Linked DNA regions of Homo sapiens. The protein of the gene in region 3 interacts with the protein of the main gene of each other region in a biochemical or structural test. Each region holds a gene or a part of one and is shown on either strand. Other genes may lie near its edges.

Evidence for each region.
Region 1: the proteins of TRIM4 (region 3) and TRPM8 form a complex in vitro, tested with the Homo sapiens proteins (one study listed by BioGRID).
Region 2: the proteins of TRIM4 (region 3) and HNRNPDL form a complex in vitro, tested with the Homo sapiens proteins (one study listed by BioGRID).
Region 4: the proteins of TRIM4 (region 3) and ABTB1 form a complex in vitro, tested with the Homo sapiens proteins (one study listed by BioGRID).

What each region holds. Positions count from the first base shown.
Region 1 is NC_000002.12:233,920,356-233,927,376, forward strand, and holds part of TRPM8 (transient receptor potential cation channel subfamily M member 8), read left to right. Parts: intron 1-6,177; 5' UTR 6,178-6,182; coding exon 6,183-6,299; intron 6,300-7,021.
Region 2 is NC_000004.12:82,427,463-82,434,841, forward strand, and holds the start of HNRNPDL (heterogeneous nuclear ribonucleoprotein D-like), read right to left. Parts: upstream 3,001-7,379; 5' UTR 2,229-3,000; coding exon 1,786-2,228; intron 985-1,785; coding exon 816-984; intron 718-815; coding exon 556-717; intron 103-555; coding exon 1-102. Other genes in the region: ENOPH1 (enolase-phosphatase E1), read left to right, coding at 3,368-3,451. UniProt on the Homo sapiens protein: Acts as a transcriptional regulator. Promotes transcription repression. Promotes transcription activation in differentiated myotubes. Binds to double- and single-stranded DNA sequences. Binds to the transcription suppressor CATR sequence of the COX5B promoter.
Region 3 is NC_000007.14:99,916,510-99,923,465, reverse strand, and holds the start of TRIM4 (E3 ubiquitin-protein ligase TRIM4), read left to right. Parts: upstream 1-3,935; 5' UTR 3,936-4,064; coding exon 4,065-4,457; intron 4,458-6,686; coding exon of another isoform or gene 6,687-6,764; intron 6,765-6,956. UniProt on the Homo sapiens protein: E3 ubiquitin-protein ligase. Mediates 'Lys-63'-linked polyubiquitination of the innate immune receptor RIGI, this linkage doesn't lead to proteasomal degradation but seems to enhance IFN induction.
Region 4 is NC_000003.12:127,668,061-127,675,958, reverse strand, and holds the start of ABTB1 (ankyrin repeat and BTB/POZ domain-containing protein 1), read right to left. Parts: upstream 3,008-7,898; 5' UTR 2,934-3,007; coding exon 2,878-2,933; intron 1,615-2,877; coding exon of another isoform or gene 1,569-1,614; coding exon 1,506-1,568; intron 1,415-1,505; coding exon 1,359-1,414; intron 1-1,358. Other genes in the region: PODXL2 (podocalyxin-like protein 2 precursor), read right to left, coding at 3,479-3,691, 4,346-4,525, 6,757-6,818, 7,362-7,518. UniProt on the Homo sapiens protein: May act as a mediator of the PTEN growth-suppressive signaling pathway. May play a role in developmental processes.

The DNA.
Region 1 (7,021 bases), on a different chromosome or scaffold from region 3:
AATTTTTGAGAGTAAAGACCATGAATAGAAATAATTGAGATTATTGATTAAAAACATGAAAGCAAAGATTGACATAGTTAAACAAGTAAATCCTAGAACTGGACAAATCCTTAGCTATCTCTCTGTGAAGGTCCCTTCCTTTGGGCCTGCCATGGAGATAATTCCATTGAATTTTACTTTCATGGCATAGCTTCAACTTGCATTCAGGACATTCTAAGAAATAGCCAGGCTAAGTTTAGTGCTGTAAGTCTTGCATGGCTGTGCAGGGATATTTACCACTATGTGGCCCAGTGTGCTTTTGGCATAGGCATTTTTCTTTTAACTTATTATTTTGAGATAATTATAGCTTCACAGGAAGTGGAAGAGGAAAAAGCATAGAGAGGGTCTGTGTACTCTTCACCCAGTTCCCCTCAATGGTGACACCTCATGTAACTATCATACAAGATTAATACCAGAGAATTGGCATTGGCACAATGCAAAGGCTTTATCAGATTTCACCATTTTTTTTTTTTTTTTTTGAGATGGAGTTTAGTTCTTGTTGCCCAGGCTGGAGTGCAATGGTGTGATCTTGGCTCACCGCAACCTCCGCCTCCTGGATTCAAGTGATTCTCCTGCCTCAACCTCCTGAGCAGCTGGGATTACAGGTGCCCTTCACCATGCCTGGCTAATTTTTTGGTATTTTTTTAATAGAGATGGGGTTTCACCATGTTGGCCAGGCTGGTCTCGAACTCCTGACCTCAGGCGATCCACCCGCCTTGGCCTCCCAAAGTGCTCGGATTACAGGCATGAACTACCACGCCCGGCCCCAGATTTCACCACTTGGACATGCATTCATTCATGTGTGTATAGTTTAATGCAATTTTATCACGTCAGTAGATTCGTATAACTACTGCCACAACCGAATTTTGGAACTGTTCCATCACTAGAAAAGCCCCTTCACTCTGCCCCTTTACAATCACCCCATCCTCCTCATCCTACCTGTCCCCAAATGTAGGAGTTCTTTTCACCCTGGCCTCTGTATCAGGGAATGTGGGTTTGAAGTTAGTTTATGGATGCCTTGAAGCTTGTAATTGACTATGTTCATCCTGTCAACCTAAAATAATCAAAAGGCTCAGGATCCAATTAAAAGAGTTTATTCAAGTGCAAAGATGAGGGCCGCCATCCAGACAGCAGAATGACAGCAAAGGATGGTGATCACTGCACCTGGGATGGGGAAAAGGGAGAATCATTTATACAGGCAAAGCCAGAGGTGCCGAACAGAAACACATTTTCTTTTTTCTTTTCTTTTTTTTCTTTTTCTTTTTTCTTTTTCTTTTCTTTTCTTTTTTTTTTTTTTTTTGAGATGGAGTCTTACTCTGTCACCCAGGCTGGAGTGCAGGGGCGTGATCTCGGATCACTGCAACCTCCCAGGTTCAAGGGATTCTGGTGACTCAGCCTCCCAAGTACCTGGGATTACAGGTGCCCGCCACCACACCCAGCTAATATTTTTGTATTTTTAGTAGAGATGGGATTTCGCCATGTTGGCCAGGCTGGTCTCAAACTCCTGACCTCAAGTGATCCCCCTGCCTTGGCCTCCCAAAGTGCTGGGATTACAGGCGTGAGCCACCATGCCCGGCCAGAAACACATTTTCTGTATGAAGGCTACTGTACAAATGTAAGATTTGATTGACTACTACTGTTTATACTCTAAGGGGGTTGCTTAACAGTCTATTGTAAAGAGGTTACAGTCGCAAGGGTCTCTGTCTCCAACATCAATTAAGTCTAGGTTAGAATGAAGGATAGGGAGTCCGGTTAAGGTAGAACATCTCCATCTGGTTTTGCACAACCCTTGCAAAAGTCAGTCAGCAAGGGTTGTGCAAAAATAGCTGTGCTATGTGACTCTGTTTTCAGAGCTTCACTTTTCCCCTTGGCATAATCAACCTGGAAGGTCCTAAAATTTTATTTTCTTTTTACAATCCCTTTGCTTTGGCCATTGGTAAGTTTAGGGCATGATTTCTAGTGCCCCCTGAGGACCTTGGAACAGGCTTCCCCTGTGGCTGGATAAGCTCCTCACTTAACCAGTCTCTTTCTCTTATTTTATCCTCAGCTCATTTATTTCTCTTTGGTTCCTTTGCTTTACATAATATTTTAGTAAGTTTCTTCAACTCTTTCTGCATTGAGATAAAATATAAACATTTAAACTGAAAAAAAACCTCTACCACGTCATCTCTACTTATTATTTATATCTGACATTTTCCCTCCAGCCTCCCTGTCTCCCTTTCCAGAGCTGCCTAAAGTTATGTGAGTGTTTGCCTTCCTTGTTCCCCATTCCTGAGTGTGTCTTTCTACTGCCCTCACAGCTGAATTGACTCAGGATACAATTCCTAGATCACAATCTTTTCCCTCTTAAAAAAATGTAAACACTGTTCCATTTTCTTCTAGTTTATAGTGTTGAAGAAGAGAAGTTTTATACCAGCCTGGTTTTTCTCCTTTAGTAATTTTTTTCTGCTATATTGCTTGTATGTTTTTATGTTTATTCTTTTTTCTTTTTTGAAACAGAGTCTCGCTCTGTCACCCAGGCTGCAGTGCAGTGGCACGATCTCGGCTCACTTCAAGCTCCGCCTCCCAGGTTCACGCATTCTCCTGCCTCAGCCTCCTGAGTAGCTGGGACTACAGGCACCCGCCACCACGCCTGGCTAATTTTTTTTGTTGTTGTTGTTAGAGATGGGTTTCACTGTGTTAACCAGGATGGTCTCGATCTCCTGGCCTCGTGATCCGCCTGCCTCAGCCTCCCAAAGTGCTGAGATTACAGGTGTGAGCCACCGTGCCCGGCCATTTTTATGTTTATTCTTATACTTAAATGATTTCATCTGGATACCTCTGGCCCTATTAATTTTGCTTGGCAGCAGACCCAGTGAGGTTTTTATTGTGAAGACTCAAATCTTTCTTTATCTTGGGGAAGATTTATTCTGTTGATTTTCTGATGACTGTCTCTTGTAAGTAGAACATTCTTTTCTTTGGAAAGGCCTGTTACTGACATGACAAATCTCCAGTGTTCTCCATGGCTCCTCTAGCAATGGCCACAGCTAGGTGTGGTGCAGCTGTACCAAGGTTTTCCCTCCTTGGTGGGGTGGGCTAAAGTGGAGGGACACAGCCCCATGTCCCCTGCTGCCGTGCTCTGCCTGCCCAATGCTGCCGGCACCAGGTTACCACGCAGGGCTCCATGGGCCGGCATCCACTGCACATCTCGAGCACATCCTCTGGTTTGACATGGGGTCACACGGTGCTGCCAGTCTTTGCCACACTTGATTAGGGTGCCAGCTTCATTAGAAGTAAGGACGACTGTCAATTAAGCATTTCACTCATGGGTCTTGAGACTTCTAGTCTCAGCTTCTGTCGTGCCTGGGGAAGCACCTCACTCTCTCTTCTGCCTGGGGAGGCTGTAACTAGAAAACAATAAAACAACAACAACAACAACAAACTGTCCAGAGCTGGAAAAAAACAAAAACAGCCAAAATTGAGTTTGCATGTAAAGAGGCTTACAATCAATGTGAAAATTTCGGACCAATATCTGGTTAGAATCAGTAAACCATCAGGACTTCAGAATAAGGGGAACATGCTGGGCAGAAAGAAGAGCAGGGAGGCTGCAGTCAGGATTTTCTTTACCAGATCAAAACTCTAATAAAAACAACTACTTTTACAGTGTTGGGGGGAAAGTGTTGAATGCAATAAGAAGACATCCCCATGGATGATAAGCTTCTCACAAGTTCCTCCTAGGCTTTGGTGTGCTCAGATCATCCCCAGGGACCTTCTCCTGACACTGACAGATAAGTCCAAGGTGGGCAAGTCAGGAGCGGAAGGACTCATGCTGGGCATGGACATCCCAGCCCTTTGCCCATTGTTTCCAGGGAATTTTGGATCGCTGGATCTGGCGGTGTGATTTTGTTACTTCTCCCTGGCGCATGACGCACCAAGGGATCGGCTTTCTCCCCCTGCCTTTCCCGTTCTATCTCTTTCAGGGGCATCTCCTTTTCCACAGACCCCTCCTCTCACTCTCCAGGGACCCAGCTGCTCTCTTCCCATATCGCTTCTCTTGGACCTCAGGCCTTAAGTTCCTTCTTCCAATGCTTCTTTTACTTCTGAGCCTGAAGTCCTGCAACAATGTGTCTAGAAGATCAACAAACCTGCAGTACTGGGATAGCTGCTATCTAAGACTGTATGCCAAGACCCAGTCAACCAACTTGAATATCAACTGGTCTCAGAGAACCAGTTGAGACTACCAGCTGCTGAGAAAGGCATTCGGAATGTCAGAGGAGGGCTATTTGCTGCATCTCTTAAATGGCTTCCCAATGTTTTCTTTGATAGAAATGTGATTTGAAGGCAAAAATACCCCTTTTCTGTTGCAGCGAAATAAACAGTTTTTCATTTCAAGGCAAATGAAGTCACTTCCTAAGCCTTGGTGCCCTACTTAGAAGCAGTTTGCTGTAAGGGAATCATAGTGAATACCTTGCAGGATTGATCTGTGGTTTTGCAATGATGTATGTAAAGTGCCAATTAATACTCTCAGCTTCTCTTTGAAATGCCTGGGGAGAGAAGTAAAAGAAGCGCTTGTTGTTTTAAACAGTCTAGACCAACCATTTGGAGTGCATTTTAAAGCAGTGCCAGTCTCTGAGGTGTGGGAGGCCTGTGGCTGGCCTGGGAGGGGCGATCTGGATGGAGGAGTCATGGCCCCCTGGGCTGAGGGTCTGAGAGCAGAGTGTGGCTGAGTGGTGGGTCTGCTCTGTGTCTTAGACATTTCTGCATTCGGGAGTTATAACAGGTGACGTGGAAATAGTTAGCAAACCGAAGGAGGATTTGCAAGGGAGTATTGATTCAATCAAACTATTCATCCAATAAATAAATATGCAGATCTCCTTTATGCACTGTGCCAGGCCCTGGAAGTCTAGTGGTGAACAAGATACAGTCCTTGGCCTCAGCAAGTTAACAGGGGTCAAACAGATCATTAAACAAATCATGATGCCCACAGCTTGGTGCAGGTTGAAGGGGCTACACAGGCAGGTGAGCACTTGCTCAGCCTGGGCATTGTGGGGCATCTCCCTGAAGAAATGATGAGTGAGCTGAGCCTGGAGGATGAGCAGGAGATGACAGCTGGAGGGGTATGGGGAAGAGGGCTCTGGACAGAAGGTGGGACCCCAGCTAGGAAAGCCAGGTCCAGAGAGAGAGGGAGGTGGGCACAGTCAGGCCGGGGAGGTGGAGACCAGCAGGGCCGAGCGCAGAGACAACGCGAGAGCCTTGGAAGGGGTGAGGAGGAAGGACTGCTGCTGGGATGTGGTGGGACAGACAGGGAGGAGCTTGGAGCCAGGAGGAGGGGACTCAGGGAGACACGGTATGCAGGAAGGACAGTGCTTTCATTTACTGTGTCAGCAGGACAACCCCAGAGGTTGAGTAGGCATTGACGGGTTTTGTCTCGAGCTTCGGATGTGGGTCTGAGTTAGACTTTGGGAGACGAGGGGAGAGGGGCCTCCTGAAGTATGGGATGGGGGCATATTAGAGTGAGAAAAACAGAGCAGGGACCCCGGGAAGCATTGCATGACAGATAAGGTTTTGCAATGCCCAGGCTAGCAGCCTGCTCCAGAGCCCTAGAGGGAAGTCTTGGGCGTTAGAGTCTCAGGATGACCTGGGACAGACTGACCCCCAAGCCCTACCCACCACCCTTCAGGGGCAGGGGTCTTCTTTTCTGCCTGAGGTGCAAGTCCTCTGGCCAATGCAGGCTGCTAGCCATAGTCTGCTCTGTAAATTCCCTTCATCCTCAATTCATTACTTAGCAAGTAGCTACTGCAAGCCCCTCAGATGGAGTGCACTGTGATGCATGTGCTACAGACTGCCCTTTCAGAGCTTGCAGTCTGGTGGGGCCATGCACTTGGCCACTGCAAAGAGGGGGTGCCCAGGAGGGGATCCTGACTCAGGGGTGAGGGGCCAGGGAGGATGGGCTGAGGGGTGGAAATGCCATCTGGGTCTTGGAGGGTAAAGAGGAATTAGGGGCAGAGGCACAATGACCATGGTGGGCCGAATGGAGCATGGGACATTGCACGTGGCAAAGGGGAGAGGGTGGAGGGAAAACGGCATTGGGGTGAAGCTTTGAAGGAAGCCCTGTTACTGTTTGTAACCCAAACTTATCCCCTCCAACCATCGTCACAGAAAAGATGTCCTTTCGGGCAGCCAGGCTCAGCATGAGGAACAGAAGGAATGACACTCTGGACAGCACCCGGACCCTGTACTCCAGCGCGTCTCGGAGCACAGACTTGTCTTACAGTGAAAGCGTAAGTCATGCGCATCACCTGTTTGAAAGGTTATCATTGTAACCTTCGTAAGCCGTCAAATCCTGCATTTGCACATTGACTTTTAGAACATTTTAAATGCCATGTCTTTAAAATTCCTTTCACTACTTAATGCTCAGTGCTCTTGTTTCCGGTCTGAGCCTTGAATCACAGTCCCTTCTCCAGCTCTATGGCCAGGGTCTCAGTTTGGGTCCATCTGCATTTGTTCTTGTAATGGCCTCCTAGCTGCACTCCTTCACACTGTCTCTCCTGGTTCCAGGCCAGCTTCTACGCTGCCTTCAGGACACAGACGTGCCCAATCATGGCTTCTTGGGTGAGCTGGAGTCGGGGTTGGGTGCCAGCGGGAGGTGTGTCCTTAGCACCTCTCTACCTCTTCCTGCCTGGCTTTGCTGACACTGGGCTGAGTTCCCTCCTGCAGGTTTTCCACCCACTCTCAGATCCTGTCCAACACTCTCATATCCTGTCCAACACTCTCATTTGTCAAGAAATTAAGACAACATTCCAGCCTGACATCCAGTTCTCATGGACTACAGTGTTAAAAGTCGGGATAGCGGCTAGCTTTGGAAAGTAGGAATTGGTGGTGGGAGGCAGTTCTGGGGTGTTGCTTAGGATTTTGATCTCACTGGTGGGTTCCATGGGGGCTGACTTTGTGATCTATCATTGAGCTGTAAGAACACGCACACACAAACAAATACGCAAAAACC
Region 2 (7,379 bases), on a different chromosome or scaffold from region 3:
TTCTAACAATTTTTTTACTGGCTCTTCATCAGTATATGTGATAAAACAAAATCCTCTTCTTTCATTTGTTTTTGTATCCATGGGAAGTTCAATATTTTCAATCTGAAATCGAGATGCACACTCAACGTCATCCCATAATTGTAAAACGTTACAGTGTCAGAATGCCAAAGGCCTTTTCAGGCTTCAACTTAAACATGTTATTCTTATCGGGTGACTTCTATACAGACATCACTGCTTTATGATCAACATCAGCCTACAGTGATTTGTTGTATATTTGAAGCATTGAGAGAAATTAATATTATTTTGTACCCAAAGATGCCACTAGTTAACAAGTCCAAACACTGACCACATTTAAGTGCCCATGTTTTAGCTAAATTAGATAGTTGGGTTTCCATCAGAGCAGCAATGAAATCAAGGTACAGTCACTGGAAGCGACTTGAGCAGTCATTTAATTCTACTCTTACAGGAAACATGAATCTGCCCTGCATAAATCGGACAAGGATTGAACATTTTATAAACACATCAAGCTTAACATGTGTAAACATAATCACACACCTCTCCAAAGGCTCCAAAATATTCTTTAATTTGTTCTTCAGAAGTATCCGGGCTCAATCCACCCACAAAAACCTTTTTGGGAGGTTCTTTCCCTTTTAAAGCTTTGGCCCTTTTGGGATCTATCAATTTGCCATCCAGTTTGTGTTCTTTCAGTTCCAAAACCTACAAGACAGATTTATTTAATCTGACAGCACCATATAACCCCCAGAAAAATTTGCAAAACACCACAAAAGCAGCACAATGCAAAACATAGTTCCTACCTTATCAACACTAGCAGCATCTTTGAAAAGCACAAATCCAAATCCTCTTGATCTCCCAGTGACTGGATCTGTTTTAATTGTGCAGTCTACAACTTCCCCAAATCGAGACAAGTACTCTGTCAGATCTTTTTTGCTTGTATCCCAGCTCAAGCCTCCAATAAACATTTTACTAGAAATAAAAGTGTTTTTAAAAAAAATTAACAATAACTCAAATGATCCTTCAGTTCTGGAATTAAATCGTGAAATAAAAACAGGGACATTTACCCCCTAAGTGTAGGCAATTTAATTCATGTTTACATTTAATCTATGTCACACAAAAATCCCAATATCCCAACGAAGTTACTCAAACCAGCGGACAGCTCACTGTCCGCACTACATAAAGCAAAGCTCAAAAGAGACCAATAAAATACAGTAAAGGTTCTGCCCAGATTCCTTTAGGTAGAAGGCACAACTTCCTAGATGAATCCCTCACATCTTATCTTACTTAGGTCCATCTTCGTTCTCAGCTGTCAAGCCAACGTTCCACCCAGAGAACTCATCAATCATAACACGTTTTGTGAATCTGGGTACCAGTCGCCTGCTTGTGCCCCAACTCAGTCCTCTAAAACTCTTCCCAGGAAAACCGCGCCGAGTGGTAACAGAGACACAATGAAGAGGCGGCGGCAGCTGCAGCGTGCAGCGCTGGGAGGCCGGCCCCTCCCCCCCGGGTCCCACGCGGCGCCTGCGCGCTCGGGACACAGACGCCGCCGCCCTCCTCCTCCAACCCCTCCGCCCTTCCCCCACTCTTCCCGGGTCTCTCCAGTCACCCCCTCGATCTCTTACTTTCCTCTTCCCTCCAATCTAGTGGGGCCCAGAAGGCACGCGGGGAATCGACTCTGAGAAAGAATGGGGGCAGCGCGCGGCTCACGAGGAACGAAGGGCGCGTGCGGCGCGCTGGGGGAGGGGGAGCGGGGGAAGAAGCGTGCGGTACCCGTCATCCTGCTGATTCTTGCTCGCGTTGATCTTGGATCCCTCTGCGAATTCCTCTATATTGCTGTACTCGTTCATATCCTCCATAGTGACGGAGCTGTCGGCAGGGGGGTGCTGGCGCGCAGTCCGGGTCGCGGCAGCAGCGGCGGCGGAGCGTTGTATGGAGCTGGATTTAAAATGGCGGCGGAAGAGATCCGGGCGCCGCCTGCGCCCTCCCTTTATAGCCGCCCCGCCCGCCAATCGGGAGGGCTGCTGGGCGGTGACGTGGCGCTGGGCCCGGCGCGCCCCCTGCCGGGCGGAGCTGGGAGCGAGCGAAGGGAGGAGCGGGGCTAGCTGCCGCGGCGGCCGCGGCCGCCAATGGGAGAGGCTGCGGGAGGCTAAAGTAGCGGGAGCGGAGGGGAACAATGGCGGCGGCACATGGGAAAGCCTGGGCGGGACCTCCATCGCGGCCCTCCCGGCAAGGAGAGAGGCCACGCGTGAGGGGACGCGGGCTTGGGAGAAGAGAAGAATCAGAAGAGAAAAACGAAGGGGCGTAAATTCCTGGGGTCAGCAGTCCCGAGCAGAGCCGACGCAGGGCCACAGTCCCTCTTGCCTTGGGAGCCTTTGTCTCTGGCGTCCGGTCCAGCCCACTCCTACCAAAAAGCCGTCAACCCCGCCTTTTTCTGCCCTCGGTTCGCCAGTGCGGAGCCGCTGCGGCGGCCGCTGCTACCGACTAGCACCGCGGCCAGTCTGCTCCGGAAAAAGGCGGACTGCGCCCGGCGCTGGCGACTGAGGCGGCGAGCGCGCTCGCCCGCCGCGCGCACGCGTGTTTTGTCCTCGAGCTGGCAGGAACCAGCCGAACAGGAAGCGGGCGCGCGACGGCTCCTCCGGGCAGCGCAGCGCGGGCGCCTCTTCCACTGTGACCACGGGCGCGCGGGCCAAGGGGGCGCGGCGGGGCCTCCCGGGCTGATCGGCCGAAGCCCGGGCCCCGCGCGGCCTCTGGCGGGCTGACGCCGGGAGGAGGGGCGGGGGCTGGCCAGATGACTGTATCTATGCAAAGGCGGAGGCGGTGGGCGGGGAGGGGGCTGGATTCAGTAGAGGGCAAGGGGCACTCACATCCCCGGCGCGCCACTCGCGGGGCTCCTTTCTGCACGTGCCCCGGGCCTCTCCCGCTCGCTCAACCTGTCTGCGGAGGGCGCGCTCTCGCGCACCCTGCTCCCGCGTTCGCTTCTTTGTTCCCGCCCACGCGAGGCCCATTTTGACGGATCCAGTTCGAGGCCTGACGGCGGCCAATCGGCGCTGGCGCCTTCACCCTCCCCGCCCCGCCGAACCCGTCAAGGGCCGCCCCTTTTCCTGCCCACGTGGTCTCGGGCTCCTGCCCCGTCCTGCTCACGAGTTCAGGGCTCCTGGGCGGCCGCCTTTTCCAGTTCCAGGTGTGCAGAAGTGTCCTCTCCCCACGCGCGGCGGGCTGCACTTGGTCGCTGGCTCCGAGATCGCGCGGGGCCGCCGGAAGCCCAAGACGGTACCGGGGGCCGCAGCCGCAGCCGGCGCCGCCCTCCGCCCTCCCCAACAGCAGGCCGAGTCCCGTAGCATCCGGTAGGGAAATGGTCGTGCTTTCGGTCCCCGCCGAAGTCACCGTGATCCTGTTAGATATCGAAGGTACCACAACCCCGATTGCTTTCGTGAAGGTGAGGGGCGGAAGGGAGCGGGGATGTTACTTTTCCTTAAAAACAGTTATTATTTTTTCTAAGTATTTCAGGCCTTGCATTGGAGACGAGGGTTAGGAGAGGCGGTGTGGCTGCCTCTTGTGTGGAATGGGGAGGAAGGAGAGAAAGCCTGCGGTGGGTTGCGGGGATGCTTTTCCTCGCGACACTAGCTTCTCCCTCCCCCGCCCTTGCGCTTGGTTGGATCCAGATGGGTGGGAAGGGATGGAAGTTGACGCTAAAAATCACCGAAGGGCAGGTAAGCCGGGGCGGGGTGTGACGGTGCGGGCCTCGCCACCCGGCAGGTGTGCACCCGGTCGCTTCCGCAGGTGAGCGCAGCCTTTCTGCTCCGTCGGGCCTGGTGTGGCAGCGGCAGCGATTTAATGGTCCTTAAAGCTTCCGATCTCAAAATGGAAAGACTGAAGTGTCAAGATGACTTTTCAGGTGGCCCTGGTGTCGGGCAATCAAGGTTCCTCTTCGCCCCTTCCCACTCTTGCTGTTAGTGGCCAAACTGCACAGTGTATTATTTTACTCTGTTAGGCGCTGTGGTCCATAGCGCTGATTTTTTGAGCTATAGGACACGTCTAGATTCCGTTCACTTTCCTCAGAAAACCACAGAAGCTTGAAGCTCTTATCCAGAGCATTCCTTCTAGGATGTCACTGTGAACCAGCACTTGTCTGCACCTCAGCTTGCAACTTAGCGGATTCCTTCTTTATTCTTTGTCTGTTAGAATAAGCAAATATGAAATGTTACTTTAATTTTTGAAAGAATTCCTCGGGCCTTGTCTTTTTATTTGGCTCCCTGAGGTTTAAGAATTCATTGCAGATACAAGTACTTCTTAGAGGTGCTTGCATGCACAATAATAGTCGAGATATACAAAGTATATTACCAAGTAGGAAAAATCCATCTTCCAAGAAACTGAGCAGCTTGGGTTTTAAATTCTATTTTAGTTTCCATTTTTAAAAAAAATTATCTGTGAATAAGGCTTTTTTTTTTTTTTCTTTGAGAGTCTCACTCTGTTCCCAGGCTGGAGTGGAGTGGAGTGGTGCAATCACAGCTCACTGCAGCCTCTACCTCCTTGGGCTTAAGGCATCCTCCTGCCCCAGCCTCTCGAGTAGTTGGGACTGAAGGGAGAGCCACCATGCCTGGCTAATTTTTGTATTTTTTGTAGAGACGGGGTTTCGCCATATTGCCCAGGCTAGTCTGGAATTCTTGGCCTCCCAAAGTGCTGAGATTACAGGCATGAGCCAAGGCGCCTGGCCTGAATGAGTTTCTTGATGTAGGTTATAATATAAAATCCATGTACACTTTTAGGACACCAAACATAACAACCTTTAAAATTCTTTTAGAAGAATCACAGTACCTTGACATCTTAGCATAGGTTCAGAAGAAATCGAGTTTAGCATTTTCTCCACGGTTTTTGTTTTTGTTTTGAGGCGGAGTCTCGCTCTGTTGCCCAGGCTGGAGTGCAGTGGTGTGAGCTCAGCTCACTGCAACCTCTGCCTCCCAGCTTCAAGCGATTCTTCTGTCGCAGCCTCTCCAGTAGCTGGGATTACAGACATGTGCCACCACACCCAGCTAATTTTTATATTTTTAGTAGAAGAGGGTTTCACCAGGCTGGTCTCAAACTCCTGACCTCAAGTGATTCACCCACCTCAGCCTCCCAAAGTGCTGGAATTACAGGCGTGAACCATGGCACCCGGCCTCTTCCCCACGTTTTGTTTTGTTTTGTTTTGTTTTGTTTGAGACAGAGTCTTGTTCTGTCTCCCAGGCTGGAATACAGTGGTGCAACCTCTGCTTCCGGGGTTCAAGCGATTCTGGTGCCTCAGCCTTCCGAGTAGCTGAGATTACAGACGCGCACCACCACGCCCGGCTAATTTTTGTATTTTTAGTTGACCAGGCTGGTCTGACCTCAGGTAATCCTCCCGTGTCGGCCTCCCAAAGTGCTGGGATTATAGGCGCGAGCCACCGCGCCTGACCTTCCCCCACGTTTTTAATCACACCAGAGACCTCTGCGGAAAATTTCAGGACAAATACTGATGATTGATTAATTTCCTTTTTTTTTGGATTGTGACAGAGTAACCGCTTTCTTGGTTTTCAGAGAAAAAAGGAGTCCTCATTTTTGTAATTTATAGTTAACAGCTCACTCGTTCCACTCTGGCTCTCTCTTGCTTTCTGCGGTCATCAGGAGACCAAGGATAAGGACAGGAGAGGTAGTGATGTGGCATTAGATCATTAGATACTACCGTTTTCTGAAGGTAGATTTGGGGAGTAAGAAACCTCATACAAAATCAATTTTGCAACAAAACATAATACCCCTCCCCCACCTTTTTCCCCAAGTGTGTCTTCTGCTAGATGACATTATGAGCCACTTCTTGGAATCTTTGTGTCTGTGGCAGACTTATTCTGAAATCCAAAAATAAAAATGTCTTAGTTGCCTAAATAAATTTTTCTGAATTTGACGCTAGGCAATGTGCAATTTCAATGCAGGCTGCAAAAGAATGATTTAGGGATCTTGTTTAAAGGATAATTTCTTGTGCCCTGTCCTATAATAATATCTATTGTTATTAATATTGTTAATCTATTATAATCTAATCTATTATTATAATTTGTTAGACATGAATTTATCAAAACCATTTTTCCTAAAAGTATGTTTAAAAGAAAGTTAGGTCTGTGTGGATGTTTATGGTAATTATGTAAAAAAGGATTCCATTAAATGCACTTTTGGGAAATGCTAGTTAGAATGAGTTCAAATAGATTTCTTTATTGCAAGACTTCTCAGAACCTTCGGTATCATACATATATATACACACATACACACTTTGTGAGATTTCAAGAGAGTGACATTTCACAAATCTACTTGAACAAAAAACTTTTAGTAGAGTATCTCAGTGACTAATCTTTTAAACACCTTTTAAAGAGATGCTGAGTTACATTCTTGAATCTGAGCACGGAAAGGTTGAGCATGGGAGTTGAAAGATAATCTGCTTGGAGCTTTAAAGTCAGAGTAGGTGTGTGAACTTGTAGCCCTTCCTTCTGTGGAATGATGGAAGGAAACATTGAGTACTGTATACGTGCAGTACTCAATCCTTGACTCATTCTAAAAGACCATGAGGTGTATGTACTGTCTACACTTTACTTAGGATGAAACAAAGCCTCTGAAAAGTTGAACAAGATGCCTGGGATTTGAACTCAGATTGTCTTATTCATAAAAACTCTTATTTTTTCCATTACTGCACTCAGCCTTGGAAATGGGATGCTACTGTTTGTCCTGTCTCCTTTGCTTGGTGGTTGTGTATGTTAAATGACACAGTTAGTATGAGAGTTCTTTAATCAATGTGAAGTACTGTGCTATAAAAGTATATGGTAACAAGCCAGGTACGGTGGCTCAGGCATGTAATCCCAGCACTTTGGGACGCCGAAGCAGGTGGATCTCTTGAGGTCAGGAGTTCGAGGCCAGCCTGGCCAACATGGTGAAAGCCAGTCTCTACTAAAAATACAAAAAGTAGGCCAGGCATGGTGGCTCATAATCCCAGCACTTTGGGAGGCCGAGACAGGTGGATCACCTGAGGTCAGGAGTTTGAGACCAGCCTGGTCAACATGGTGAAACCCCGTCTCTACTAAAAATACAAAAATTAGCCGGGCATGGTGGTGGGCACCTGTAATCCCAGCTACTCAGGAAGCTGAGGCAGAAGAATCACTTGAACCCAGGAGGTGGAGGTTGCAGTGAGCCGAGATTGTACCACTGCCTTCCAGCCTGGGCAACAGAGGAAGACGCTGTCTCAAAAAAAGAAAAGAAAAGAAAAAAAGGAATAAATAATTCAAAAATTAGCTGGGCATGGTGGCGCACACCTGTAATCCCAGCTACTGGGGAGGCTGAGGTGGGAGAATCGCTTGTACCTGGGAGGCGGA
Region 3 (6,956 bases):
TATACATGTGACATATGTAGCAGCATAACCGACAACTGGGACTGCGCTGCCTTGACTCCACCTCTACATACAATGACTCAGCTAACCAGACTAATAAAAGCCATGTTTGCACCATTGCTCAGGGAGGCATTGCTTTGGGGAATTATTCCCAGTGTCCTCCTTACTTATCGCAAGTAATAAAATCCCCCTGGGAAATCCTCCTTGGTTGTGGTCATTGGACTGTCCCCTGCCAAGCAATTTAACCCATTCATTGTGTGGGTAACAAAAGGCCAGTCTGGGACATGAGATCTGGGTCTACAGTTTAGTTCTCAAAGTCTTTGGCATGCAATTTAGGACCAGATTCATCATACCAAAAAAGGGAGATAGTCTCAACAGAATTCTCAAATTACTTAAATATCAGAGGCAGTGTAGAGAAGGAGTACTTGGTGGTATGGTAGGTTTTCTGACAGGAAACAAAAGATGGAGGTAAAATGGAACCAGTACTTTCTTTCTGAGAATACTGACTGCACCAACCATAACATGAAGCGAAGGCTATATCTCCCTGAAGTAAGAAATGTAATAAAGGAAACTTTCAGAAATAATAGATCATCTGGAGATGTTGGGCAGTGTATTTGGTAAGTTATAACTACCAGGTATCAATACAATAAGCTTAGTTTGAATACAATAAGCTTAGTTTCTTTTTAAAGAATTTATCCTGCTCTGTGTTCTCTGAGCTCCTTGGATTGGTTTGGTGTCTTACAAATTTTGGAAATTCTCAGCCATTATTTCTTGATTTTTTTTTTTTTTTTGAGATAGAGTCTTGCTCTGTCGCCCAGGCTGGAGTGCAGTGGTGTGATCTCAGCTCACTGCAAGCTCCGCCTCCCGGGTTCACGCAATTCTCTTACCTCAGCCTCCCGAGTAGCTGGGACGACAGGTGCCTGCTACCATGCCCGGCTAATTTTTTTGAATTTTTAGTAGAGACGGGGTTTCACTGCGTTAGCTAGGATGGTCTCGATCTCCTGACCTCGTGATCTGCCTGCCTCGGCCTCCCCAAGTGCTGGGATTACAGGGGTGAGCCACTGCGCCTATTTCTTGATTTGATGTTGATATTTTCCCACCAGTCTTGGATGCTGTGTTCTGTTTCTGTCACTCTTTTTGTGTGTGTGTGTGTGTGTGTTTCAGCAATTTCTATTTACCTACCTTCAAGTCTGATTTTTTCCTCAACTGTGTTCAGTCTCCTAATGGGCCCATGGAGGGCATTCTTCATCTCTATTATTATATTTTTTATTTTTATAGTTTCCATTTTATTTTTCCTGATAGTTTCCATCTATTTGCTAAAATCACCCATCTGAGCTTGCATTTTGTTCACCTTTCCCCTTAGGGCCTTCATCACATTAATCACAGTTATTTAAAATTCTCTCATATTTCTAATGTCTATGTCTTATGAATCTGGTTCTAATGATTGTTTTATCTCTTTGGACTGTGTTTTTTCTTGCCTTTCTGTATGCGTCTTTTTTTCTTTCTGTTAAAAGTTAGTCATGTTGTATTTTTTTTGCTTAAATTATTTTTTCAATTCTCTCTTCACAGTATGAAGTAAAGATTGTTTTTATGCTTGGAGATGAGTGTGTCTTTCCTTCTGCTAGGCCTTTAGTGCTCTTGAGTGCATAGCAGTGGTTCGGTGGTATCAGTCTAGTCAGAAATTGGGCTAGGTTTACAGTTTGTTGTTGTGGTTATCCTCAGTGCACAACAGACTTCAAATTTCTCTAGAGATAGCTTATGTGTAGGGTGTGGACTTTATTTTGAAAGTGTGTTTTAAAGAGGTCTGTATGGATGTCAACTCGATGCAGAGTGGACAGTGGTAATTTTGTAATATATCAACTTTGCTAAGCTAAACTATGTTTCCCAGAATTTCCTTTCCTTTTGTTTCTGGTTAGAATAGCCCAACAGAGACATGGTTGTGTAAGTCTTGAAGGGGAGAACTGAAGCATCCCTCCAGTTTTATACTTGAAACGGTGGTGCAGGGACACTAGGTGCTACTGCGGCTCATCTACTTTGTCACCAATCAGCTGGTTCACCTTGTTGGGATGGGGCAGAAGCTTTTCCCTGAGTCTTCCTTCACCTTTTTTGATTCCTGAGCTGTGTGTGTGTCTAGTCCTGTGGCAAAAAGTGTCAGCTCCTCTAGCAAGGATACTCATATCTTTAAAGTTGGAGACAGTGAAAGAATGACCAGCTCGTGTCTTAGGTTCCAACTCATTTTTGCTCTTCCCTACTTTATGTTCATCTTCCCTTCTTAACTGCTTGCCCTGCGAACATAAAGAAACATAGTGATTCCACTTCTCTGAATGAACCTTGGCTGGTATACAGACTTATAGACATTTTGTGATGGAGAAAAATTGTTAATTAGGGAGCCTCACTTAGTAAAGAAGGAAGGTCATCTCTGGTATGGCAGGAATAAAGACATAAGGATTTTAAGGGATTTACCTGAAAAGATTTAAATGACTACTGTAAGGGGAATAAATACTTTGCAGGAATGCTGAAACTTCTCATTCAATACTTAGGTAAACATATAGACACACAGATGCCATAAACACTCATGGTAAACATCAGTAACTGTTAAGAGCATTCCTTCCTGCTTGGTCCCTATTAAAGAACCAGATCCCTTCTCCATAGAGTATTCCAATTTGCAAAGAAAATCCATTCATTAGTTGTCCAATTTAAATGTTTTAGAAATATTCAGTGGAACTTTCATCAATAACCCCCAAACAGATACCTCAAGAACCCCTTTTTCTAATCATTTAATCATACTACTTACTGAGAAAAATTATTATAGGAAAGGCAGTATTTGATATTGGGACATAAAAAGAATGAAAAATCTGTTAAATAAGCAAAAGCCCATTAGCCTGAGGCTGTCTTGGTACTTGAGTTCCCATATAACAAAATACAACCTGACTTAGTATGTAAACGAACTGAAGCCTAACTTACTTTATTTTTTATAACAGCTGGGTTTCAGCCAATCACGGCCGAGCTTCAGCAAATAACAGACAGCCAACTGATCAGACCATGCCCCAATAAGGCAAATGCCTCATCATATCATTGTCAAATAAGGCAGACACCTAGATGTTAGCTAATGAGGTGATTTCTCTACTTTGCTTCCTATAAAAGCTAGCAGGTCATACTGCTGGACAGAGCTCTCTGAACCTCTTTTGGTTCTGAGTGCTGCCCAATTCATGAACTGTTCTTTGTGCAAATAGCTTCTATTAAATTTGTCAGTCCAGAGTTTTTTTTGTTTTAAACAAATATTCACAAGAAAAGGAAGAAAGTGGGAAGAATAAAAAGCAAAGCACCTCAGAAACACAAGATCGAAAATCCACTTAAGGGATATAGATAATTCCCTGAAACAGGTGAGCATATTATTTGTTGAAAGCCTCCATGGATGTTCTTTGGGATAGCAAAATGGTTGCTACTTTTCAAATTGGATACCAAAAAGGCAATGTATCTGCATCTCAGAATCCAAATCATCCCCACGTTAGCCAAACTCCAGGCCTACCAACACAGATCCTTCAAGTCTTCCTGGCCTTCCAGGCCCCTAGGCTGCAGCTCGCCCAGAACTCCTGGGACTCTAAAACTTAAATCGGTCTAACCAGCAGGCGAACACAGACCTGAACCCTCAAACTTGGAAAGAAAGATCATAGGCACCTCCCCGGTTGGCTCCCCCAGGGACCACAACGTCCGGCTCTAACGCCTTGCCCAAGTCCTCTGTAGCTTTCCACAGGCATTTCTGGGTCTCTATAGCTGTTTGGAGGAGCCACTCACCGGTCCCGTCCTGCCCCGCGCCTAGGCCTGAACCAACCCCCTCGCGGTTCCGGCGCGGATACCCAGCAGCTTCCGGTCTTGCGCGCTCAGGCCGGGCAACGTCCGTGCGTTCTTTTTGGGTCCTGAACCCCGGAAGAGAAACTGCGTTGTACCCTTTTACGTGAGGCGGTGACGGCGGTTCGGAAGTCGTCTGGCCTCCCCGCGGCCGCTCGCAGCTTGCTGGCCTCTCCCGCGCCTCACGTCGGACTCCGTCTCCGCGGCAGGGAAGCAGCATGGAAGCTGAGGACATCCAGGAGGAGTTGACCTGCCCCATCTGCCTGGACTATTTCCAGGACCCGGTGTCCATCGAGTGCGGCCACAACTTCTGCCGCGGCTGCCTGCACCGCAACTGGGCGCCGGGCGGCGGCCCGTTCCCCTGCCCCGAATGTCGGCACCCATCGGCGCCCGCCGCGCTGCGACCCAACTGGGCCCTGGCCAGGCTGACTGAGAAGACGCAGCGCCGGCGCCTGGGCCCCGTGCCCCCGGGCCTGTGCGGCCGCCACTGGGAGCCGCTGCGGCTCTTCTGCGAGGACGACCAGCGGCCAGTGTGCCTGGTGTGCAGGGAGTCCCAGGAGCACCAGACTCACGCCATGGCACCCATCGACGAGGCCTTCGAGAGCTACCGGGTGAGCTGGCCGTCGCGGTGACTATGACGGGGCTGTCAGTGTTGCCCGATAAAGTTTACTTAATGCTCCTAAAAGAGCCACGAAGTGGCTGTCATTCCTACTGGAAGCATGAAAAGCCCCTGAAACTCAAAGAAGTTAAGCAAAACACGAATTTCAGAGCTAGGGTTAAAACTGGAATGAGAGGAGGGGAGGTGCAAACCTCAGCAATCATTGTGCAGAATTTTCAATAAACTGGCCCTTGGGGAGCTCATAATAAAGAAAAACATACTGAGAGGGTGTGTGCCGCTGCTGTCCAATAGAAACCACATATGTAATTTAAAATCTTTCTGGTAAGATAAGGAAACGAGGTGACGTTAATTGTAATAATATATTTTATTTAATCTGATTACCCCAAATATTCAAAGCTGAGATGAAAATTATCAATGAGATTTTTTTTTTTTTTCTGAGATGGAGTCTCACTTTATTGCCCAGGCTGGAGCACAGTGGCGTGATCTTGGCTCACTGCAACCTCCTCCTCCGGGGTTCAAGCAGTTCTCCTGCCTCAGCCTCCCGAGTAGCTGGGATTACAGGCACACGCCACCACACCCGGTTAATTTTTGTTTTTTAGTATAGAGGGGTTTCACCATCTTGGCCAGGCTGGTCTCGAACTGCTGACCTCAAGTGATCTGCCCCGCTTGGCCTCCCATAGTGCTGGGATTAAGGTGTGAGTCACCACGCCCGGCCTCAATGAGATATTTTATACTCCTTTTTCATAATAGGTCTGAAATTGGTGTGTATTTTACATTTACAACACATAGCAGTTTGGAATATCCACGTTTCAGGTGCTTGTATGGCTAAATGGATACTGTATTGGACAGTGCCTGTCTGTATCTGTAAATGTCATAGACAGCTGATGATTTGGGAAAAGCCTAGCTTGTAATGATGAGGCTGGGTTTTGTTACTAGCTTCCTTCATCAGTTGGGAAAATCCTGTAACATTTGAATTTGGGGATTATCTGTCCTATCTCATGGGTTAAGAAGCTCCGGTTGAATAAATCACTTTACCTTACTCTGCTTCAGCCATACTGGCTTTCTTGCTTTTGTTTCAAGTCTGTTCTCTTTCTCTACCCACATCTATCCTTTAGATCCTTTTAGCTTTTAGCTTGAAGACCTTCCCTGATCATCCTTTCCAGAGTAGCCCCACCCCCTCCCATTACTGATGGTGTAACTCCAGTGGTCTCCAGCAGAATTGATATGCAGTAAGTACATGAACACATGAATTTATTTATTTATTTTATTATTATTGTTTTTGAGATGGAGTTTCGCTCTTGTTGCCCAGGCTGGAATGCAGTGGTGAGATCTCAACTCACTGCAACCTCCACCTCCCGGGTTCAAGTGATTCTCCTGCCTCAGCTTACCGAGTAGCTGGGATTACAGGCACCTGCCAGCATGCCCAGCTAATTTTGTATTTTTAGTGAAGACAGGGTTTCACTATGTTGGTCAGGCTGGTCTCGAACTCCTGACCTCAGGTGATCCACCCACCTTGGCCTCCCAAAGTGCTGGGATTACAGGCGTGAGCAAGCTTTCCTGGCCAAACACATGAATTTAATGACACAGTGAAAATGTTTGGAAACTGTAAAATACTGTACAGTTGTACCAGCTGACTATGAACAGGAAACAGACACAAAGCTGGACTAGAAAGTGTATGTTCATTCCTTCACTCAGTAACGTTTATTGATGCTTACTATTTGCCAAACATTGTTTTAGAATCTGGACATAAGTGGATGAGAAAGACATGGGCTTTGTCTTGTAAGGAACTTAAGCGTGTACAACATTAATTTCAGTGTGTGTGAGAGTAGCTGAAGTATTTACCAAGTGTACAGAAGGTCTGAGGTCGGAGTGATCACTGAGGAGTGAGGAAAGGCTCCGTTGAGGAGTTAAATGTGTTAGCTCTTCAAGGGTGAGTAGAGGTAGGAAAGAAGGTATTTCAGGCCAAAGGAACAGCATATTCCAAATGTGGTGGAGTGGGATAGCATGTGGTGTGTGAGAGGACTGGAGGTTGCTCAGTACTTCTGGAGCATGGAGCATGGGAAGGAGGATGGTGGGCCATGAGCTTGAAGAAAAAGGCAGGGCCTTATCATGAAGGATCTTGTTTGCCATAGTAAAAAGATTGAACTTTCTCTTTCAGGCAGTGGGGAGTTATAAAAGGGTTTTAAGGCAGGGAATGATATGATCGTTTTTTTTGTTTTAGACAGGTAACTTTGACATCCACGTGGATGAATGGAAGAGAAGACTAATTAGGCTGCTCTTGTACCATTTTAAGCAGGAGGTAATAAAGACCTGAATTAGTTCAGGGCAGGGATGATGGAGAGGGAGGGATGGAGTGATAATGAGCTGGAGTTGAATGACTTGGTGATCAATTAGACTTGGTGGGTGAGAGAGAGAGGAGTCTTGGATGGTAGTTCAGATTTCTGCTTCAGATGGCAGGTAGATGACTGTCAGGTTAACTGAGGTAAGGTAC
Region 4 (7,898 bases), on a different chromosome or scaffold from region 3:
AGGGCTCACCAGTTAGCAGGGAAGGGGCCTGGGGGAAATTCTAATCTCCCTGTCCCTCCTCCCCACCTTCCCACACATGGGGCTCCGAATCTCTGGCGATGCCTTCCCAAATTACCCTGGGCCCACTCTGACCCCAACACCCTCCCAGTCAAGGGCTAGGCGAATGGGCACGTCTGTGTGCACTCACACAGGCACATACTCACTCACACGGAAGACAGACAACACAGAACGGAGAGCTGACTTGGTGGCTGGGCTTGTCCCACACACTGGAGCACAGCAGTGAACGAGACACAGGTCCCTGTCCTGCTGAACTTATACTCTAGTGAGGCAGGACAATCAACCCACTACCTAACGATGGCAGGGACTATTAAGAAAAACAAGCCTGGGCGTGGCAGCTCACACCTATAATCCAGGCACTTTGCGAGACCAAGGTAGGTGGATCACTTGGGCTCAGGAGTTTGAGACCAACCTGGGCAACATAGTGAGACACCATCTCTGCAAAAAAAATACAAAAACTTGCCGGGCGTGGTGGTGCACGCCTGTAGTCTCAGCTATTTGAAGATTTGAAGGGGCTGAGGCAGGAGGATCACTTGAGCCTGGGAGGTTAAGGCTGCAGTGAACCGAGATCACACTACTACACTCCAGCCTGGGTGACAGAGCAAGACTCTGTCTCCAAAAAAAAAAAAAAAAAAAAGAAAAAACCAAAATAGGAAGAAGAATGGCACTGAATGAAGGGAAGTCATGAAAGGTCACTCTGTAATGGTGGCAGCATGCAGAGACCTGAATGAAGGGGGAGTGGGCCATGTGAACGTTTGCAGAACGGCAGTCCATGCAGGAGGAACTGCAGGTGCAAAGGCCCTGGGGCAGGAACAGGGGCATGCATAGCACAGTGGAGCCCCAGCGAGGCCAGTGTAGCAGCAAGCAAGCAGCAAGCAAGCAGGGAGAGCCGAAGGAATGAGGCCAGTGGGAGGGCAGACCCTGTGGAGCCTTGGGCATGGCCAGGCAGGCTCACTGTATCCTAGAGGCAATGGGAACTTGCTGGAGGATTTTTAGCCGATCAGATTCATTGTGAAAAGATCAACTTGGCTGCAATGGCAAGAGAGAGGCAGGCACCGTGTCCGGGGAGAAATGCTGATGACTGGGCCCAGGTCGTAGAAGTAGAGATGGGCAAGGTGGACAGAGAAAAGGTTTTAAAGTAGCAATAATAGTACTTGCTGATTCGACTGGGTGGTAAGAGAGGAATCGTGGTGCTTTGCAAATGTGTATCAAGGCCTTTGAATGCACGCACGCATGCATGCACCCACACGCACACATGCATGCACCCACGCACACCCGTGAGCCGGGCTCCCTGCTCTCACCATTGGCCAGAAGGTAGAGTACCAGCTCCTCGTGCCCACACAAGCAGGCATAGTACCTGAAGGGAGGAAGGAAGTACAGGAGGCAGTCCTCAGTGCTGAAGGGGTGCACCAACCCCCACCCTCCCCACCCCTCTCTCCAGCACTCACAAGGGGGTGCTGTCCCACTTGTCCCGCACATTCACCTCCACGTCTCGCTGCTCCAGCAGGTACCTGGGCAGGAAGGAGGTCAGAGCCTGGGTCAGGACGGGTTCATGGTCTGAGAAAGAAGGCCCGTGGAAAGGAACGGAGAGAAAACATCCCTTTTGGTATGGGGAAGCCTCCCCCAGGTGAGGGCAGGTGACAGGCAGACCAGAGCAGGAGAGGCACTCAAGGCAAAGTGCAGGCAAGGATGTGGAGGTGGGGTCGAACAGGCAGACACTGTGTGCTATCAGTGCTGGGGGACGATGGGCTACAGGGACAGAAGCCAGAGCCAGTGCCGAGGCTGGACCTTTGGCCTTTCAGCGTTTGGGAGAGGAGGTGATGGAGCCTTCACTCCCACCAGAGCTCTCTACTGCAGGAAGAAGCTGGCCCTGTTAGAAGCAGGGAGCCCGGGAAAAAGCTGCTGCAGGCCTCCTGATGGTGTGGAGGGCACACAATTCTAGGAGGCAGGAGTCGCGGGATACAGCAACTGATGGGATGCGGAAGGTGAGCGAGGGGAGTCGCCAATGCTAATGCAGCCCCACTGAGGCGGGGGCAGCCCAAAGGAGGCCTCCAGGCTGCACCTGGAAGTGCTGTGAACCCACTCAGCGTTGACACTATGCACTAACTCTTGAGTGGCACGGGATGTCAGGGAGCGGCCCAGGGAGGCTACGGGAGTACAGCAGCCCGGCGCCAGCCCAGGGGAGGTGGAAGCAGTCAGTCAGCACCAGGTCAAGGGGGAGGAAGGGCCAAGAAAAAAGGAGGTCAAACGGGATAGTGGAAGCCCAAGGAGGGGAAGGGCCCCAGAACCCAACTGGGCACCCCTTCCCTCCGCGTCCGGCCCATGGAGGGGGCATCTCAGCGCCAGATTCACTTTAGCTGCGTCAGGAGTTTCCGAATCCTCAGGGACCGGAGGCCGATTATGGGCTCTAGGTGTTCCCCGCGCCAGGTCCAGAGAGCACGAGAGAAAGGGGCCACGTCTGGAGTCCCAGGCCTATACCCGCGCCCTGCGCCCGGGGGGTCTGACGTCCGGGCCCTACCAGGGCGAACAGTGGCCCGCCTTCTCTCCGCCCACTTCTGCGCCTTCGGGCCTCCGCTGAGCAGTCCCTTCTTACAGGAAGCCCTCCGGGGGTCAATGGCCATCAGTGTCCCCGCCCCAGCGCGCTTCCGCTGGGGGGCTGCGGCGGGGGTCCGGGTGGTCTGCCCCGCGGGGGCGCTCCGAGGGCTGTGACCCGGCAGAGGCGCCCGCCTCTCCGCGGCCGCCCAGCCGCCCGTCCCAGGGCCCGAGGCGTTCCGAGGGCGGCCACCTCCCGCACCCTCCCCGGGACTGCGAGGTCCTCACCGCACTCGGCCCACATCCCCCTTCCTGCAGCTGGCGAACAGGTCGCTGGTGTCCATGGCGCGGAGGATGGTACCCGAGCCGAACGACCTCGGGCGGCGAAGCCGCGCACCCGGCGGATGTAAACACGCTCAGCCCCGCCCCGCCCCGCTCTGCAGCGGCGTCCGGAGGACCCGCCCGCCCCGGCCTCCCCGCCCCGCGGCCCCGCCCCTGCCCCGGGGTGCCCCGCCCGCCCCGCCCCGCCCCAACCCCGGAAATAAGAATGAGTCAAGAAGGCAGACGCGCTGGGCCCGGCGTGGTCTCCGGGCGGGTTTAATTGAGTCCCGGGGCGCAGGAAGCGCCGCCCGCCGCCCGCGGGGCCGGGGTTCAGGGGCGGGAAAGCGGGGCCAAGGCGGGCTTTGAGGCCTGCCCCTCGGGCGGGAGTGAGGGAGTTGGTCCGAAGCCGCCGTGTGAAGTCGGGGGAAGCGGGAAGGAGCCCGCGCCGAGGGCCAGGCCGCGGGGGCGGCCCGGGTAGGCGCGGGGCTGGTGCGGGCTCCGGGCCGTCCGTTTCGGGGTCCACCTCGCTTGGTCCTGGCGGCCCACTCGGCCTGCGCCTCGGCTGCGCTCACAGGTGCGTGTCCTCCTCGAACACGTCCGAGTCCTCGGGGTCCCGCTTGCCCCCCATGAGCGCCCCCCAGCTCCCCGGGCCGTTGAGGGCCCCGCCGCCGTTCAGGCTGGGGTGCTTCTCCTGCATCTCCGACTGGCTGTCGCTGGCCACGTCCAGCGTGGGGTTGTCGTGGCAGCCGTTCTCCACGAAGCGCAGCTCCTCGCCGTGCGACTGAGGCGGGGTGGGGAGAGGCCATGGGCGAGCGAGCCAGCCCCCGGACAGCGCCAGGCCCGCGGCCGTCTGTGCAACCCCACCCAGGGGGTTCCCGCGGCACCCTCCACAGGTGCCAGATCCTTCTTTTCTGTTGCTGCAGCTCAACTCCTTTCTCAAAATAAACCTACTAGTCGTTGGCACTACAAAGCCCCGTGGCCTCCCTGACGTCATCGATCCCCCAACAGCCCCCTAAGAAGACTCCACTTGCGAGGTGGGCAGGGAGCATCGCTAGGGCTCTGCTCGCTTCCTCCTGGGGAGGCCTCTAGGCTGCTGGAGCCTCTCCTTGATCCTTGGGCACCACCAACGCAGGGCCTGCCTCTGGTGAGGTATTCAGGTGCTCAGGCCCTGCAGTGCCTGCGCCGGAAAGGGGCTGGTGGTGCCAGGGAGGGGCCCCCTGGTGGGGCTAGCAGCCCCCTCACTCCCTGCACCTCTGGCACCTGTCCTGGGGCTGGTGCCCTGCAGAGCAGTCAGCAGTGCTAGGCTGACCAGCTGCTTCACCCACGGGACCCTGTGCGCCCAGGAGAGTCACTGCCTCCCCTTGCAGATGAGGACACCTATCGATGGGCACTCTCCTCTCAACTGGCCCCCAGCCCCACCTGTCCCCACACTCACCACGTGCTTGAGCTTGGGCAGCCGGCGCTGCCAGCAGTTGTAGAGCAGGCCAAGCGCAATGATGATGATGCAGATGGCCCCAATGACCACCAGCACCACGAAGAGCGTGCCGTAGTCGCTGCGCACCTGGCTGGCCCGCGCCTGGCAGCTGCTGGTTGTGGAATAGTTCTGGATGCCAATCTAGGGGTGGGAGGGGCCAGTTTCCTCAGCTGAGGTCCTGGGGTGCCATGGCTCCTCTGGGGTGGTTGCATTGGGCTCGGGTGGGGATGGGGGAGCAGGCTTAGAAGGTGCTGGCACTCCCGGCTCCTGAAGTTCCCTGGCGCCTGGGCTTGCCTCTACCCCATGCCCATCCCGTTTGCCTCAGTACACCTGGAGGCCTCTCCACCCCATGCCCATGTTCCCAGCCTCCTTCACATCCCACCATAGCTTCTGCCCCAGCCGCTGAGTCTGAGCTCACTGTGGCCCTAGGCCTCCAGTGAGAGTGGACCCATGCTGCTGGACACCATCCAACTAGAGAGAGTGCCCACACCTATCCTAACTAGTTAGAGAGACAGGAGATGTGAGCCCCCCACACATCCTCCACCATACAACCGCTTCCACCTCGGTGGGGAGGGGTGGACCAGTCAGCTTCCTGATGCCAGGGCCGGTGCAGGGAGGGATACTGAGGGCATGCAGGCCACATGGGGGGCCACCCCGGCTGCCCAGCTTCCTCCCTTCCCATGGCGTGTTCACTGCTGGCATGTAGCTGCCTGCATCCCTCCACGCTGCAGGTTGTCATGGTCAGTCCTGCCTTCTCTGGCCAAGGAGATCGGCGCCAGGGGCCAGGCAGGTGCTATCTCCACAGATCAGCATCTTAGCAGAGAGAAGCAGGAGGGCGAGCACCACCAGGGGCTCCTCAGGTGAGGGATCAGGGCAGTTCCCAGTGCTGAGGCCTAGGTTGCACCAGGCCCCCTTTCTGAGTTCAGGTTGCAGCTCTTCCCCGGTTTCTGTGAACCACCCGTGTATCTCCAGTACTTTTCTCAATTTTTTGTTATCAAGGGTCAGTTTTTCTTGCTAGATTCACCTGAGTATATTTCCAAAGACCCAGCATGACTTTTGGCCAAGTCAGTGTGAATTAAGTGACCAGTAACGCCAGAATACTCAGGGGCAGCGAAAAGCAGGGGGAGGACTGTATAAAAGGTCAAGGTTAGCCCACACTTCCACCAGCAGCCCCACTGTTCATGGACCCACGATTCCAGAACTGGGAAGGGCCTCAGTGGCCCTCCAGGCAGTAGAGCAGTGTGGTGAAAGGCCCGGGCTCCGGAATCAGGCTTCCTGCAAAGCCTGGCTCTACCGCTTACTGCTGGTGCCATCTCAGACAGGTCACCTAACCTCTCCCGCTTCAGCTCTCATCTTCCATGGGGACACCATTGGTACTCAACAGGTGCCTCACTTAACCCTCACAACCCCATGGGGTGGTGGCGAGGACTGAGGGAGAGAGCCTTGCACAGTGTGGTGCTCAGTGGGCATTCGACATGCTCACCAGAAAAGCACCACCACCAGGGCCTCTGCTCCCCTGGCATGCAAGGATGAAGAGGCGGCCAGCATTATACCACTCATCTCTCCTGCCAAAAATGGCAGCACCTTCGGGAGTGGAGAGGGCTGATGACAGGGCACTGGACTCTACAGTGAGCAAAGGCAGTTTTGGTGGAGATGGTGGCTGTCCTCAAGAAGTGAGATGAGGAACAGAAGGACCCCATAGGCAAGGTGGTGTGAGGAGCAGGACTGGGGGACCCTGCCATCCCATCCAAGCTTGTGCGGCAGCTGGGTAGGAGAGGTTGATCGGGATGGGCCAGGCAGCCAGCAGACTGCACTGGGTGGGGGCACCTCCTAAGATGGCAGGGCTGCCTCCTGGCCCCCAGGCGCCGCATCTCACCGCAGCAGGAGCGCAGGGCCTGGCCGTGCAAGCACCAGTAGATTCACACGTCCACGCCAAGTCACATGTCCAGGTCTCCCAGGCTTGCTCTTTTGGTTTCTGGAACCCATCATGCTCGCCCCTCCCACCAGGCAGCATGGTGTCTCTGCCACTGTCTACCCAGAAAACTCCCAGTTAACCCTCACTGCTCCCCAGACCCTTCCTCTCTGGGCCCTCTCCTGACTGTCAGCCTCTTAGCACAGCCCCCACACCCCCATGGCCCCTTTCTGCCCCTGGCCATTGCCTGCATTGGACCTTTGGTTGGTAGCATGCACATGCACCGTCTTTCCCACAAAACCATGTCTAAGGGAGGCCTGAAGCAAGGAACCTGCCCAGAGCACGCTCTGTCTTATACTCCTTTGAACCTCACGATGTGGGCAGACTCCTGGGACTTTGAGGAACAGAGACAGGAGGGAGCATATTAGAAGCTAACAGGTCCAGGTCCCTGCACTCTTACCTCCTCCAGGCTCCTGCGGATGTCACCCAGCATGGAAAGGACATCTTGAGTGGGCACCACCCCTGGGGGGTAAGAAACACCACTATCAGTGTGACCATGGCTGAGGTGCGTGCCCCTCCAAGGGCTCTGGCCCCGCTCTCCAACAGCTGGCCTGAGCCTCTGTCTCCCTTCCTGGCTCAAATTGCACACAGATCCTCAAGGCACATGCCTCCCCCTCTCTTAGACATGCTTTCCACTGCATCGATCTGTTAGAACATCGATTTGTATAACACCAGCCAGCCACTTGCGAAGCCCACACACTGCCTTCTGAACACACCCCTTCTCCCCTGCCACACCAGGTACAGTGTCCATTCATCTCCCACCTGTGCTGGACCACACCTGTTCCCCTGCCTCCTGTTCCCCATCCTTAATTCTCACACCCTCCTCCTTGTCCCCAGAACCCAAGCTGGTGGGTACACCTTGACCACTAAGCTAAGTAGCTCAAACTACTGTCCTGGAGTTCCAAGTTTCAAAGCCCTTATGCGTGCACTTTTTTCCCGTGACCCTCAGGGGCCGCCCGCCTCCCACTGCCCTCCTGGGCCCTCCCATCACCTGCCCTCGCTCACCCTGCTCGCCCACCAGTGTCATGAGAAGGTGCTGCTCCTTCTCGCTGGGCTTGCTCAGAGAGATGTGCCAGGCCCCATGGTGGCCACTGCCATGGCGGGGCAGCACCTCTTCCACCAGGGCCAGGAGCTGTGGCCCCCGGTGCTGCCGGAACACCTCCTACAAGGGCAGAAAGAGCCCCCCGTGTTCAGTGAAGGAAAGGGGCTCTACTGAGCCCTCTGCCTCTAGGCCCAGCCCCGTACTCACCCTCAACCCTCTGGCTGTTCCAAGAGAGGCAGCTCTGGTCAACTCTGGAGACCCTCTGAGAGCTGCAAGCCAGGGAATGTGGGAACCCCAAGATGTACACCCATTTGTTCACTTACACCAGGTGCTCCTTCCTGCCCTGGCCTCTAGCCATGAGAAAGTCAAGGGGCCTGTCCCAGAGACACATGCAGTTGAGCGGGGCGGGGGCTGGGGACACACACACACACACACACACACACACACACACACACACACGCAGCCATGTACAGTGACAAGCCCAGAAACTGGGTACACAG